Linked DNA regions of Homo sapiens. The protein of the gene in region 4 purifies or fractionates together with the protein of the main gene of each other region. This does not show direct contact. Each region holds a gene or a part of one and is shown on either strand. Other genes may lie near its edges.

The links. Proteins that work in one complex are often made in the same cells at the same time.
Region 1: the proteins of SSU72 (region 4) and CPSF3 purify together in Homo sapiens (affinity purification with mass spectrometry; one large-scale study listed by BioGRID and IntAct). This does not show direct contact.
Region 2: the proteins of SSU72 (region 4) and TIPRL fractionate together in Homo sapiens (co-fractionation; one large-scale study listed by BioGRID). This does not show direct contact.
Region 3: the proteins of SSU72 (region 4) and CSTF3 purify together in Homo sapiens (affinity purification with mass spectrometry; one large-scale study listed by BioGRID and IntAct). This does not show direct contact.

What each region holds. Positions count from the first base shown.
Region 1 is NC_000002.12:9,444,154-9,447,653, reverse strand, and holds part of CPSF3 (cleavage and polyadenylation specificity factor subunit 3), read right to left. Parts: intron 1-3,500. UniProt on the Homo sapiens protein: Component of the cleavage and polyadenylation specificity factor (CPSF) complex that plays a key role in pre-mRNA 3'-end formation, recognizing the AAUAAA signal sequence and interacting with poly(A) polymerase and other factors to bring about cleavage and poly(A) addition.
Region 2 is NC_000001.11:168,195,962-168,199,285, reverse strand, and holds part of TIPRL (TIP41-like protein), read right to left. Parts: intron 2,740-3,324; coding exon 2,644-2,739; intron 368-2,643; coding exon 305-367; intron 1-304. UniProt on the Homo sapiens protein: May be a allosteric regulator of serine/threonine-protein phosphatase 2A (PP2A). Isoform 1 inhibits catalytic activity of the PP2A(D) core complex in vitro. The PP2A(C):TIPRL complex does not show phosphatase activity.
Region 3 is NC_000011.10:33,084,084-33,086,282, forward strand, and holds the end of CSTF3 (cleavage stimulation factor subunit 3), read right to left. Parts: intron 1,907-2,199; coding exon 1,812-1,906; intron 1,691-1,811; coding exon 1,630-1,690; intron 1,207-1,629; coding exon 1,004-1,206; 3' UTR 501-1,003; downstream 1-500. UniProt on the Homo sapiens protein: One of the multiple factors required for polyadenylation and 3'-end cleavage of mammalian pre-mRNAs.
Region 4 is NC_000001.11:1,561,364-1,564,863, forward strand, and holds part of SSU72 (RNA polymerase II subunit A C-terminal domain phosphatase SSU72), read right to left. Parts: coding exon 3,410-3,500; intron 1-3,409. UniProt on the Homo sapiens protein: Protein phosphatase that catalyzes the dephosphorylation of the C-terminal domain of RNA polymerase II. Plays a role in RNA processing and termination. Plays a role in pre-mRNA polyadenylation via its interaction with SYMPK.

The DNA.
Region 1 (3,500 bases), on a different chromosome or scaffold from region 4:
ATAGGTACACGCCACTATGCCTGGCTAATTTTTTGTATTTTTAGTAGAGACGGGGTTTTACCATGTTGGTCAGGCTGGTCTCGAACTCTTGACACCCACCTTGGCCTCCCAAAGTGCTGGGATTACAGGCTTGAGCCACTGTGCCTGGCCTACCTCATATATTGATATATTTTTGGAGACAGGGTCTCACTCTGTTGCGCAGGCTGGAGTCCAGTGATGTGATCATGGCTCACTGCAGCCTCAACCTCCAGGGATCAAGCAATCCTCCTGCCTCAGCCTCCCACGTAGCTGGGACTACAGGCACACGCCACCATGCCCGGCTAATATTTGTATTTTTTGTAGAGACACGGTCTCACATATTGCCCAAGGTGGTCTTGAACTCCTGGGCTCAAGTGATCTGCCCATCTTGGCCTCCCAAAATGCTAGGATTATAGGCGTGAGCCACTGTACCTATCCTAATAAAATATTTCAGAACCAAATGGAACATTTTATTACTTTATATATTTCTTTATTTAAAGAGAGTCTTGCTCTGTTGCCCAGGTTGGAGTGCAGTGGCATAATCTTGGCTCACCGTGGCCTCAATCTCCCAGGCTTATACAATCCTCCCACCTTAGCCACCCAGGTAGCTGGGACTACAGGCATGAGCCACCATGCTTGGCTAGTTTTATTTTATTCTTGTAGAGACAAGGTCTCACTATGTTGTCTAGGCTGGTCTCAAACTTCTGGGCAGTCTTTCCACCTCAGCCTTGCAGAGTGGTACGATTACAGGCATGAGCCACTGTGCTCAGCCCCAAATGGAATATTTTAGAGGGTATTTACAACAACAGCATTAGCTACCAGTCCCTTTCCATTCACTTTTGTAACTTCTATCTTACAAGACAGATTGTTCTTTTTTTTTTGAGACAGTCTTACTCTGCCACCCAGGCTGGAGTGCAGTGTCGTGATCTTGGCTCACTGCAGCCTCTGCCTCGAGGGTTCAAGGGATTCTCATGCCTCAGCCTCCAAGTAGCTGGGATACAGGTGTGAACCACCATGCCTACCTAATTTTTATACTTTTTTTTTTTTTTTTTTTTGAGACCGAGTCTCGCTCCGTCGCCCAGGCTAGAGTCTAGTGGCGTGATCTCGGCTCACTGCAAGCTCCGCCTCCCAGGTTCACGCCATTCTCCTGCCTCGGCCTCCCGAGTAGCTGGGACTACAGGCACCTGCCACCACACCCGTCTAATTTTTTTGTATTTTTAGTAGAGACGGGGTTTCACCGTGTTAGCCAGGATGGTCTCCATCTCCTGACCTCGTGATCTGCTCGCCTTGGCCTCCCAAAATGCTGGGATTACAGGCATGAGCCACCGTGCCCTGCCTAATTTTTATACTTTTAGTAGAGATGGGGTTTCACTATGTTGGCCAGGCTGGTCTCGAACTCCTGGCCTCAAGTGATCCACCCACATCGGCCTCCCAAAGTGCTGGGACTGCAGCCCGGCCAAGATAGATTGTTCTTAGCCTCTCACATGTGGTAGATGGCTTGTGGCTGGGCATAGCCAGCACCAGCACGTGGCAGGGGCTTACTGCTTGCTGGGGAAGGGCCTGGGCCTGGCTGCCTGAACAGAATCCTGGTGCTGCTGCTTATTTAAGCTGTGTAACCTTGACCAAGTGATTTCACACCTCAGTTGTCTCATCTGCAGAACAGCTGTCGGTCATGAAGATTAAGCAAGTCAGTTCATATAAAACACATATACAGTGTCCGGCACATGGTAAATAATCAATGTTAGCTAGTATTCATTACTACCACCAACACTACTAGTATTGCAATTTTATCCTGCAGCTATACTTTTGCTGGAGCTGGTTATCACAAGAAAATGAGCATGAAGTTCAACCCAGGAACTTAAACTGTCAGCAGAAGTAGAACCAGGAGAGTGACAGGATGAAATGGGGCTGAGGATGAGGTGGTGACACCACACAAAAGAGCAATTCGGCTTTTCCTCCCTGGCTTGGAAATCTGGGGGAGTGTTCATGCACACAGACAATAAGAAACACCTGGGAGGAGCCTACTCTGTGACTAAACCCTACACACTGTGATGCTATAGACAGGAGAGTGATTTTTCTTGACCAAATAATCTGCTCATTAAGGGCCAGTGGCAAATACCTGTGAGGCCTATCATGCTAGAAAAAACTCAAAAACGAACAAAAGACTGCATGAAAAGGTGCTCAACATCATTAGTCATTAGAGAAATGAAAATAAAAACCACAACGAGATACCACTTCACATTTGCTGTAAAGTGACACAACCCGAGTGTCCACCCACAGGTGAATGGATAAACAACATGTGGTCTACATATAACGGACCATGACTTCGGCATGAAGTGCTGATACATGCCACAACATGATGAACCTTGAAAACATCATAGGCATTATGATTCCTCTTATATGAAATACCTAGAATAGTCAAATTCATAGAAACAGAAAGTAGATTTGAGATTACCAGGGTTGGCGGAAGGGAATGGGGAGTTACTGTGTAACGGTACAGAGTTTCTGCTTGGAGTGATGAAAAGCTGTGAAAATAGACAGTGGTGATGGTTGTACAACACTGTGAATATAATTAATGCCACTGGTTTGTACACTTAAAAATGGTTAAAACTGCAAATTTTATGTTAGATATTTTACCACAGTAAAACGTATTTAAAAAACAACAAGCAAGGCCAGGTGCAGTGGCTCATGCCTGTAATCCTAGCACTTTGGGAGGCCGAGGCGGGCAGATCACCTGAGGTCAGGAGTTTGAGAACAGCCTGGCCAACATGGTGAAAACCTGTCTCTACTACAAATACAAAAATTAGCTGGGCGTGGTGGCACGTGCCTGTAATCCCAGCTACCCGGAAGGCTGAGGCAGGAGAATTGCTTTAACCCAGGAGGCAGAAGCTGCAGTGAGCTGAGATTGGCGCCACTGCACTCCAGCCTAGGCAACAGAGCAAGACTTCATCCAAACAAACAAACAAACAAACAAACCAAAAAACACCCCAAACAACAAGCAAACAAACAAAACTAACAAAAGGCCATTTCTCCTGCTTTCCAATACATTTGGAAAGGGCACGTCATCTATTTTCTATGGACACATGCTTCATTAGTGTTCTTCTAATTAAAAATACACACTTTTTTCAGCTTACCCCTCCTTTCCAATTCCATCAAAATATCTAACTTATTTTTAATAAGTTACACGATACTTAAAAATATAAGTAAGTCGGCCGGGTGCAGTGGCTCGCGCCTGTAATCCCAGCACTTTGGGAGGCCGAGGCGGGTGTATCATGAAGTCAGGAGTTCAAGACCAGCCCGGCCAAGACGGTGAAACCCCATCTCTACTAAAAATACAAAAATTAGCCGGGTGTGGTGGTGGGCACCTGTAATCCCAGTTACTCAGGAGGCTGAAGCAGAGAGCTGCTTGAACCCGGGAGGCGGAGTTGCAGTCAGCCTGGGTGACAGAGCAAGACTCCGCCTCAAAAAAAAAAAAAATATAT
Region 2 (3,324 bases), about 170 Mb from region 4:
ACATCCATCACCAGCCAGCTATGTGACTCAGAGTAAGTCACACCTCTGGGTTTCAATTTCTCTAGAACAAAATGTGAAAATTAGATTAGATGAGGCTTAAGTACCTAGCAGCTCTAAATGTTCTTGTATTTGAGGTAAGGTCAGAAAAGTTATGCTCCCATAGAATTTATCCTATAGAGCCCCATTAGGTGAATGAATGGGTTTAGGGATGTAAACTTGGGTGGTTGGGGTCAGGGGTATATGCTACTTAAATTAAAATGAAACATTAAAATTAACTTCTAAAAACTGAAATTTAAGTACTTGCCATCAAACTAGAAATTTTGCTTTCTCGTGACGTATATTCTCGTAACATGTAGGTCTTGTCAGCCTGTATTTAAAAATAAACAGTTGCAATAAATTTAATTATACTGATTTACAAAATCCTTTGTATTAAAAACAGACTGCCTACATTTTAGGATAGGTTGTCAAAACAGCATGCAGTCTAAAGAGAACATCTTGTTCTACACTGAGATAACTCCTATTTAACTCAAATTGGATTATTATTTCCAATTTCTATACATTATAATGATGATACACATATGTAAACAGATTTTATAATTACCATGTAAGAGAAACATAGCAAAGATTTTACTTTGAAAGAATATGTATATAAATGAATAATGTATATAATGAATTTGTATAAATGAAATATGCAAGAGATTTTAAAATTACTTCAAGTTTGAAACATCTTTCCCTTAAGCTATCTTATCATTTACCTACGTAATTGTGCTACTTTTATGTTGCAAAACATGCTTTAAAATTTTTATTCTTTCCCATTCCATAAAGCTCTTACCAAATAGCTTACTTAAAATCACCTTTTTTGTACTTCAATTTTTCCCATTTAAGATTTTTGGTTAGGTTTTAGAACAGCAACTTATTATAATTTACTTCTTGAAACACTTTTCAATAAAAGAAAAGCCACAAAATTATATGCCTTTAAGGTTTCACTCTCTTGTATTAATAAAAACAGATTAATAGTCACTGTAGGAAAAAAATCAAATAATATAAAAGTATAAATCATCAGTGATCACAGCTTATAGGTAACACTATCTTTAATACTTAGAAATCTCTACAGAGAATCTTATGTAAGTAGATTCATACTTGCTTTTGAAAGTTCAACACTGAAATGAATATCTTTCAAAATTACTTAAATATCAATCTCTGCAACCAATTTTAATAATTATATATTTTATACCATATGGATATAAACAATTTAATTAATGGCCATTTAATGGGCATTAAGTTCCTACTTTCCTTCCTTTCTGCTATTATAAACAATACTACTGTGAATATTCATGTACGTATAACTCTGAGTAATTGCCCAATTAATATTAGTAGATTATTATATAAAAGAATCTTTTTAGGATAAATTCCTAAAATTCAATATTGTTTAATTAAAACAGTATTTTTAACATTTAGGCCAGGAGCGGTGTGGCTCACGCCTATAATCCCAGCACTTTGGGAGGCCGAGGCAATTGGATCACTTGAGGTCAGGAGTTCAAGACCGGCCTGGCCAACATGGTGAAACCCCATCACTCCATTAAAAACAACAACAACAAAATTGCCAGGTGTGGTGGTGGGCGCCTGTAATCCCAGCTACTAGGGAGGCTGAGACATGAGAATTGCTTGAACTCAGGAAGCAGAGGTTGCAGTGAGCCAAGATCGCGCCACTGCATTCCAGCCTGGGCAACAGAGCAAGACTCCATCCATCTCAAATAAATAAATAAAAATAAAATTTAGATTTCTCTTTCTGGGGAACAAAAATATAGCTTATGTTTAGTACTTTGCCACCACTTTTAAAAGAAAAAAGGTCTATCACTATAACCATGTTATTTCAAGAAAAAATCCCTAAGTGAAGGGTTTAGAAAGCATCAATCCAATCCTATCCTACTAGGTTCAAATTCCAATTCTGCCACCTACTAACTGTATAACTTAGGTATGTTTCTTTTTTTTTTTTTTCTTTGAGACAGGGTCTTGCTCTGTCACTGCAGCCTCAACCTTCACCAGCTCAAGCAATCCTCCCACCTCAGCCTCCCAAGTAGCAGCTAGGACTACAAGTCCGTGCCACCATGCCTGGCTAATTTTTTGTATTTTTAGTAGAGACAGGGTTTCACCATGTTGGCCAGGCTGGTCTCGAACTCCTGATCTCAGGTGATCTACCCACCTCGGCCTCCCAAAGTGCCGGGATTACAGGCGTGAGCTACGGCGCCCGGCCTTGGCCTGATTAATATATTAATGTACTTCCTGTATATTAATGTACATCAGGACATTACATAAACAACATATACTGTAAACAAAGGTAAGAGTTAAAGGACAGTTTTCTTAAACATGGATTAAGTACATACAAAATTGTCTCAAAAGACCCCTCCCCAATTAGGGAGTGTCTTTTAGAAAACATTTTGAGTCACCAGAACCTTTGTAAAAGGAAATGTAATGTTTTGATGATAGCCTGCAGTCAACAGTGAATGTGAAACACTCAGACTTAACAGTTAGAAAGACTGCCATATAATATAGATTGTTTAATTTCAAATTCTCAGATTGACAATTAAACAACACAAACAAGCCCAGTATCAATTAGTATATTCATTAAACAACAATAAATACCTCATGGTAAAGTCTCGTGTCATTCATTCTGATAAGCACCCCATCAATTCTCAAGAAAAACCGCAACAGCAGGAAAAAGCTAGAAGGCATTACTCTCTGGAAAAAAAAAAAAAGGTACATTAATATTTTAATAAAAATTAAACATTTTATTACTTTGCTGAAAGAAAAAATTTGAAAACAAAAAACAAAAAAACCCTGGAATAAGGCTGAATTCACAGTTTATAAAAATCTCTCAACTAGAAGCTCTTTGTCCTAGCTCCAACTAGCCTCAAAACCTTGTGCAAACTATTTAACATCATAGTTTCGGTTTCCTAAAATATTTTTTCTAGGTGAGGAGATATTGAGGTTTAAAAGACTTAAAAACATACCCAAGTAATGTAAAAATTATAATGTTTATTTCAAAAAATGGCAGGTACTGATAGTAAATGTCAACACCAATAAAACCAAAATGAAAGAACAACCTAGTTCTTTGTCACTACTCACCTATTCACTTTACATAAAACAAAGCAACAGACCTTACACAGAATGCTCTAATTCAGTGCAACCTGTAGGCACTATTACATATTGCTAAAGACCTGGTTTATCAGAACACTATAACACATTCTTAACATCTTTCATCTGTGGCACATCTACAAATTCCTCTGCTTTCCAAGTATAACTACTAATGATAGGCAGAATCAG
Region 3 (2,199 bases), on a different chromosome or scaffold from region 4:
CGGTGCCAACATGATGCACAAAGAAAATGCTTAGTGGAGTTTTGTGGAATTTGTACTCTTGTATTAGGGATGGTGAACTGGTAAGTATGATGCAAATATTCTGAAATCTGAACAAATCCAAAATCCTGAACACTTCTGGTCCCAAGTATTTTAGATAAGAGATACTCTATGTGAGAACAAGACAGCAGGTGGTTAAAGGAATTTCCACACTTAGGTTGCTTTCAAGAGAGACAAAAGTATTAACAGGATCTTAATCTGCCTCAGATTTACTGGGGAGCAAATGCATTCATATTTGAGGATTTCTAAAATGTTTAATTTGCCTCTTAAAAATGTTTTTAGTTAGCACCAAAAAAGACAGACCAGGAAAGAGTATGTGATTAATACATTCAGTAAATACAAGATGACTTTTCCTTGTCCTGACATTTATTTTTAAATGGTATTGGATAAATAACATAAGTAGTTATTGTAAATAAAATCTGAAAGAAGCAGAGGAAGCATGATGTTTCTGAATCCTTTTATTTTTTAAAGGACTTTTAAAATTTGAAACTACAAAACGGATTTCATACATTCTGCCATAAATAAAAACAAACAATAAGGCAGGACTCTACATAAGCAAACCAAGAACAATTGTTTTCAGAAAATGTGATAAAATGCTTTACAATCATAAGCCATCCAGTTTTTAAAATAAAACTGTTGAAAAACTCACAAATCTTCAAGCGGCACATACAAGACACCCTTGAAGAGGGAACAAAATGTGGTTCTGCCACTTTGTACTGTTCTCACATTTTTGAAAACCTAATTTTGCTTAGAGCATAGGTCTGTTCCGTATTCTAAAATTCACACAGGTTGGTTTGTTTTTTCTCAAGAACCATGTGATAGAGGCACCAATGACAATACAACTTTGTTTCCAAGAACCTTGTAACAAAGCGTTGTCTCTTTTAAACATACCACTTGAGGCAAAAGGAATCCTGGACAGGAGTTTTCTGCAGAGGCGTTTAAAACCCTACCGAATCCGCTTCTGCTGCCGTGCTCTGTAAATGTCATGAACAGGGGGGACAACGGCTCCCTTTTCTTCATCTTCATCTGAATCCTCGTTGGGCCTTTTGACGGCCTTGGTGAGTACTGCATTACTTTCCACGGGGCCGTTGCCTTCTACAGCTAGCTCTGGGGCCCCACCAGTAATGATCCTCACAGCTTCCTCAACAGCTATTAAAACAAAACAACAAAACGTAAAAACATATTCCACTATGAAAGGGTATGTATGTTCAACTGTGGATACTTTATTTCATAGCCTACTATTTTAGCAAAACATGGGATAGTACTACTGATACTAAATAATTAAAGAAAAAGACAAAAGCTGCTGTTAAAACTAATAATTTTCATAAGCCAAGCCTGATAGTGCATGTTCACATGAATAGAAAAGATAAAGTTTTATGACATTTTACTTAGTGGAATTCAATGTGAATAAGCCTTTCTCTGCCAAAGAGGGTTTGGGTAACTCCTGGGTTTCACTGCACTTCAAATTGGCTGGCTGGTTTCGAAAACTTCAGTGGCAGAGAATAATAATCTCTACTGCCTATGAGACAACAACGTGGAATGACACTCTGAAATGGAGCTTCTGTTACTTACTATTTGGTATCTTGCATCTTCGGAAAATTTCCATCAGTTCATCCACTTGTACAAAAGGACCCTATTTTTGACATGAATAAATTTTAATCCCAGTAATCTGACAAGTTAAAGTAGTAGTAACTTTATACACAATTACTATGACCCACAGAGCCAGTATCTACCATGAAAATAAGTGAACAAACCTGGAAACAGATAGGAGGAGGGAGAAGTTTCATTAAAACAACAGCTGCAGGAGGGACTGGGAACACTCCACCAGGTACAGGGTGTAAACCTGGAGCTGTGAGAAAAAGAAAAGTATGAATCAAGTGGAATGGAAGAATTTCTACACAGAGCTAAAATCAAGTGACTTGCACATAAAGATCTTCCATGTCTGCTGCTTTGTTCTGGACACTGAAAATACTTCTAGGGCTTTACCAAACCAAAGTGGGTGAGACAGCAGTCTCAATGCCGTGGCCACTGGGAGGCAGAGAAGTAGACAAGTGACTTTGTGTAAGACAACCAGGGACTGAACTAAAGTCAGTTTTTGTCAAAGAGTGTTTCTGAGTTACACAAGTCATTTGTTTAGCAATC
Region 4 (3,500 bases):
TGAGTCACCGCGCCGGCCCGTCCTTTGTCTTGACGCTGTGAACACTCGACCAAGTGCTGCGTCTTATCTTTGGGCCGCATCTTGAACCCCGTCTTGCTTCCACTGCAGTTTACGGCGATGACTTCTGCCAACGCACCGGCTGCTGTGGGGCAGATTTGCTTTCGGGCTCTCACTTGTAACAGTCACTTCCCGCGGCCCCCCTGCACCCATCACTAACCAGGAAACGTTATCGGGGTCCTCCCGACCTGCACATCTCAACACCCCTGAGGCCCCACCCGGCATCGTGCCAGTGTCCACAGGGAACTGCCTGGGGACTTCACTCCTCTCCAGGCCAAGGGCATCATGTGCAAGAGCTTTAGCTAAGTGGCAGGCTTCCCATTCTGCACCTTCTGCCCCCACCTAGGGGGCAAAGACGCCCCCCGAGTGAAATAAGGTAATGAAGGCACGCTCCTCCTAGAGCCTCCTGAGGGGCCACCACAGGCAATGCCTTTCCCACACGAGGTCCCCAAAGCAGAGCCCGTGGCTGACAGTGTCCCAGCGCCACCCCTGCTGCCACTCCTTCCCCCCACCACACACCAAGAGCACACACACGCACGCGGGGTTCTTCTGGGCCGATGCTTCCTGGGAGATCACCAACCCCTACAGTCCCTCTGTAAAGGAGGAGCTTCCGAATTCTGGGACACTGGGCTCAGCTCCTTCTTTTAGAATGACCAGAGACAGGCTCATCCTCTGCCTATACCAAGTCCTTCCGGATGAGACTGCTGAAGCTGGACTCAGTCCTTGCAGAACGTGGCAAGTACTTCCCAGGTCTGGAACCCAGGAGGTCACAGTGGGCTGACATGAAGGGGCTGAGCTTACACCAATCAAGGGAGTGTGAGGATGTGCGTCACTCTCTGCTTTTCTTTCTCTTACTGAATATACAAGAACTTAAAAATAAACAGTGCTAACTGAAGAGTAATTGTCAAAAACAGGATGTCAGGCTAAGCTTCATGGCACAGAGTTTAATGTGAATCATGAGATGAGACAAAAGCCTCCTCCAGGGCGATGGGAAGACCCAGCCCCAAACCAGACTCTTGAGCACGCAGCCCTAAACCAGACTCCGGGAAGGGGCTGCGTGGTCATGCACCGCCTAAGACTCAGAGGTGAAGATGGGAAGACCCAGCCCTAAACCAGACTCCTGGAAGGGGCTGCGTGGTCACGCATCGCCTAAGACTCAGAGGTGAAGATGGGAAGACCCAGCCCTAAACCAGACTCTTGGAATAGGCTCTGTGGCCACCCATCGCCGTAAGGCTCCGGGATGGAGACAGCATGGACAGGGACCTCGCACAAAGGCATGTCGGGAGGGCCTCCTTTCCAAGGCACAGCCCCACCTGCTCCTTCTCAGCCCACGACGGGAGCAGAGCCATGTCGAAGCCGTGCCCCACACAGGGTGGACAAGGACATGGCCTGACAGCTCCTCAGAAATCCTTAGAGATTTTTCCAAACGCAGGTTACCAGGGCTTCTGCAGAGAGAGGGGCAGCAGGACGTGCTGCTGACAGTCCCTGGGGACTTACACTGACTTGCAGTGAGAGCCCACATCTGCCACCAGGATGGCTCCCAGCACCACCGCGTCACAAGCACCACACTCTCCACCGTGGGACGCCCAGATGGCTCGGCAGGCAGGCCGGGCTGGGGAGCTGACAGCAGACGCCTGGGACTCTGCCCAGCGTCCTCACCCACAACCTTTTAACTGTAACTGGCAGAGGAGACAGCAGGGAGGGCAGAAGGTACAGTGATGGCTAGGATGCAGTTCTAGGTTTTGCCAGACATACTTTCAGGGGCCACTCCTGGCTACCTAATTAATCTACCTGTGTATAAGAATTTTTTAGCTTATTAAATATTCCAAGAGGCCAGGCATGGTGGCTCACGCCTGTAATCCCAACACTCTGAGAGGCCGAGGCAGCTGGATCACGAGGTCAAGAGTTCAAGACCAGTTTGGTCAAGATGGTGAAACCCCCGTCTCTACTAAAAATACAAAAATTAGCCAGGCATGACAGCGGATGCCTGTAATCCCAGCTATTCGGGAGGCTGAGGCAGAGAATCGCTTGAACTTGGGAGGGGGAGGTTGCAGTGAGCTGAGATCAAGCCGCTACACTCCACCTTGGGCAACAGGGTGAGACTCTGACTCCATCTCAAAAAAAAAAAAAAAAAAAAATACAAGAGTAGGGCTGAGCATGGTGGCTCACGCCTGTAATCCCAGCACTTTGGGAGGACGAGGAGGGTGGATCACCTGAAGTCAGGAGTTTAAGACCAGCCTGGCCAACATGGTGAAACCCTGTGACTACTAAAAATACAAAAATTAGCCAGGTGTGGTGGCGCGTGCCTGTAATCCCAGCTACCCAGGAGGCTGAAGCAGGAGAATCACTGGAACCCGGGAGGTGGATGTTGCAGTGAGTCTGCAGTGAGCCAAGATCTCGCCACTGCACTCCAGCCGGGGTGACACAGTGAGACTCTGCTGGGAAAGGGCGGGGATGGCAAGAGTGCCAATACATAGACAATGCTGGGCAAGGCCAGAGATGCTGGTCAAGGGCGGGGATGTCGGGAGAGGGCGGGGATGGCAACAGTGCCAACACGAAGATAAAAGGTTTAGCATTTGACACCTATTCTCTTTTCATTTGGAATACGTTTGGCCTGGCCTCCGTTCTGAAAACTACAAATCACTCACTATAACAAAATAAGATCCAGAAACTTTCCATTAGCGTGGGGGTGACCATGAAATGCCTGGTCAAAAACCCGGGCACTGATTGTCATAACCATTATGCAACTGGTGTTGCGTCCATCAGAATCTAGTTTAAGAATACTCTTCTCTCTATAGGAGTCTTCGCGGCAGACCTAGCCTGCTCTGTGTCCTCCTGAAATGAAGGAATGTTCTCTCCCATTATTTCTTCTAACAGCTTGGTTAGCAAGCTCCGCCCTCTTCTTTATCTGACCTTCTAACGACCTCACCAGATGTGTGAAGCAGCCCGGCTCCATGTGTATCAGGCACGCACGCACACACGCACGCACACCAACCTGCAAAGGAAATAACGGGGCAGCCCTGCAGTGTGAAAAGCAATGGGATTTTGTGGGTTCCACCTCCTCACCTAAGCATCCCTGGTCTACGCTATGTCACGACCCTCTGCTGAACCACGTCAGGGTGAACCCCACACCGTGTCTGTGCGCCTCACCACGCCTACTGCCATGGGTGGCACTGGAACTAACCCGTGGACGATCCGACGTGCACCAGGAATAGAAACCAAGCTCTCGCAAAGACAGAGGAGCCAGTGTGTGCACTGCACAGGGTGACACGCCTCCTGTGCCCGAGCCACACGTAACACCTTCCAGGGAGGACCACACGGGGGGTTTTTAAAGGGCAACCCGCTGGGATACAGTTCTTTGTCTTTCCTAAGAAGATCATTGTACATCTGGTCATATGTGGTTTTGAAATCATAAACATTGGGCTTGTCGGGAGCTGGTCCTG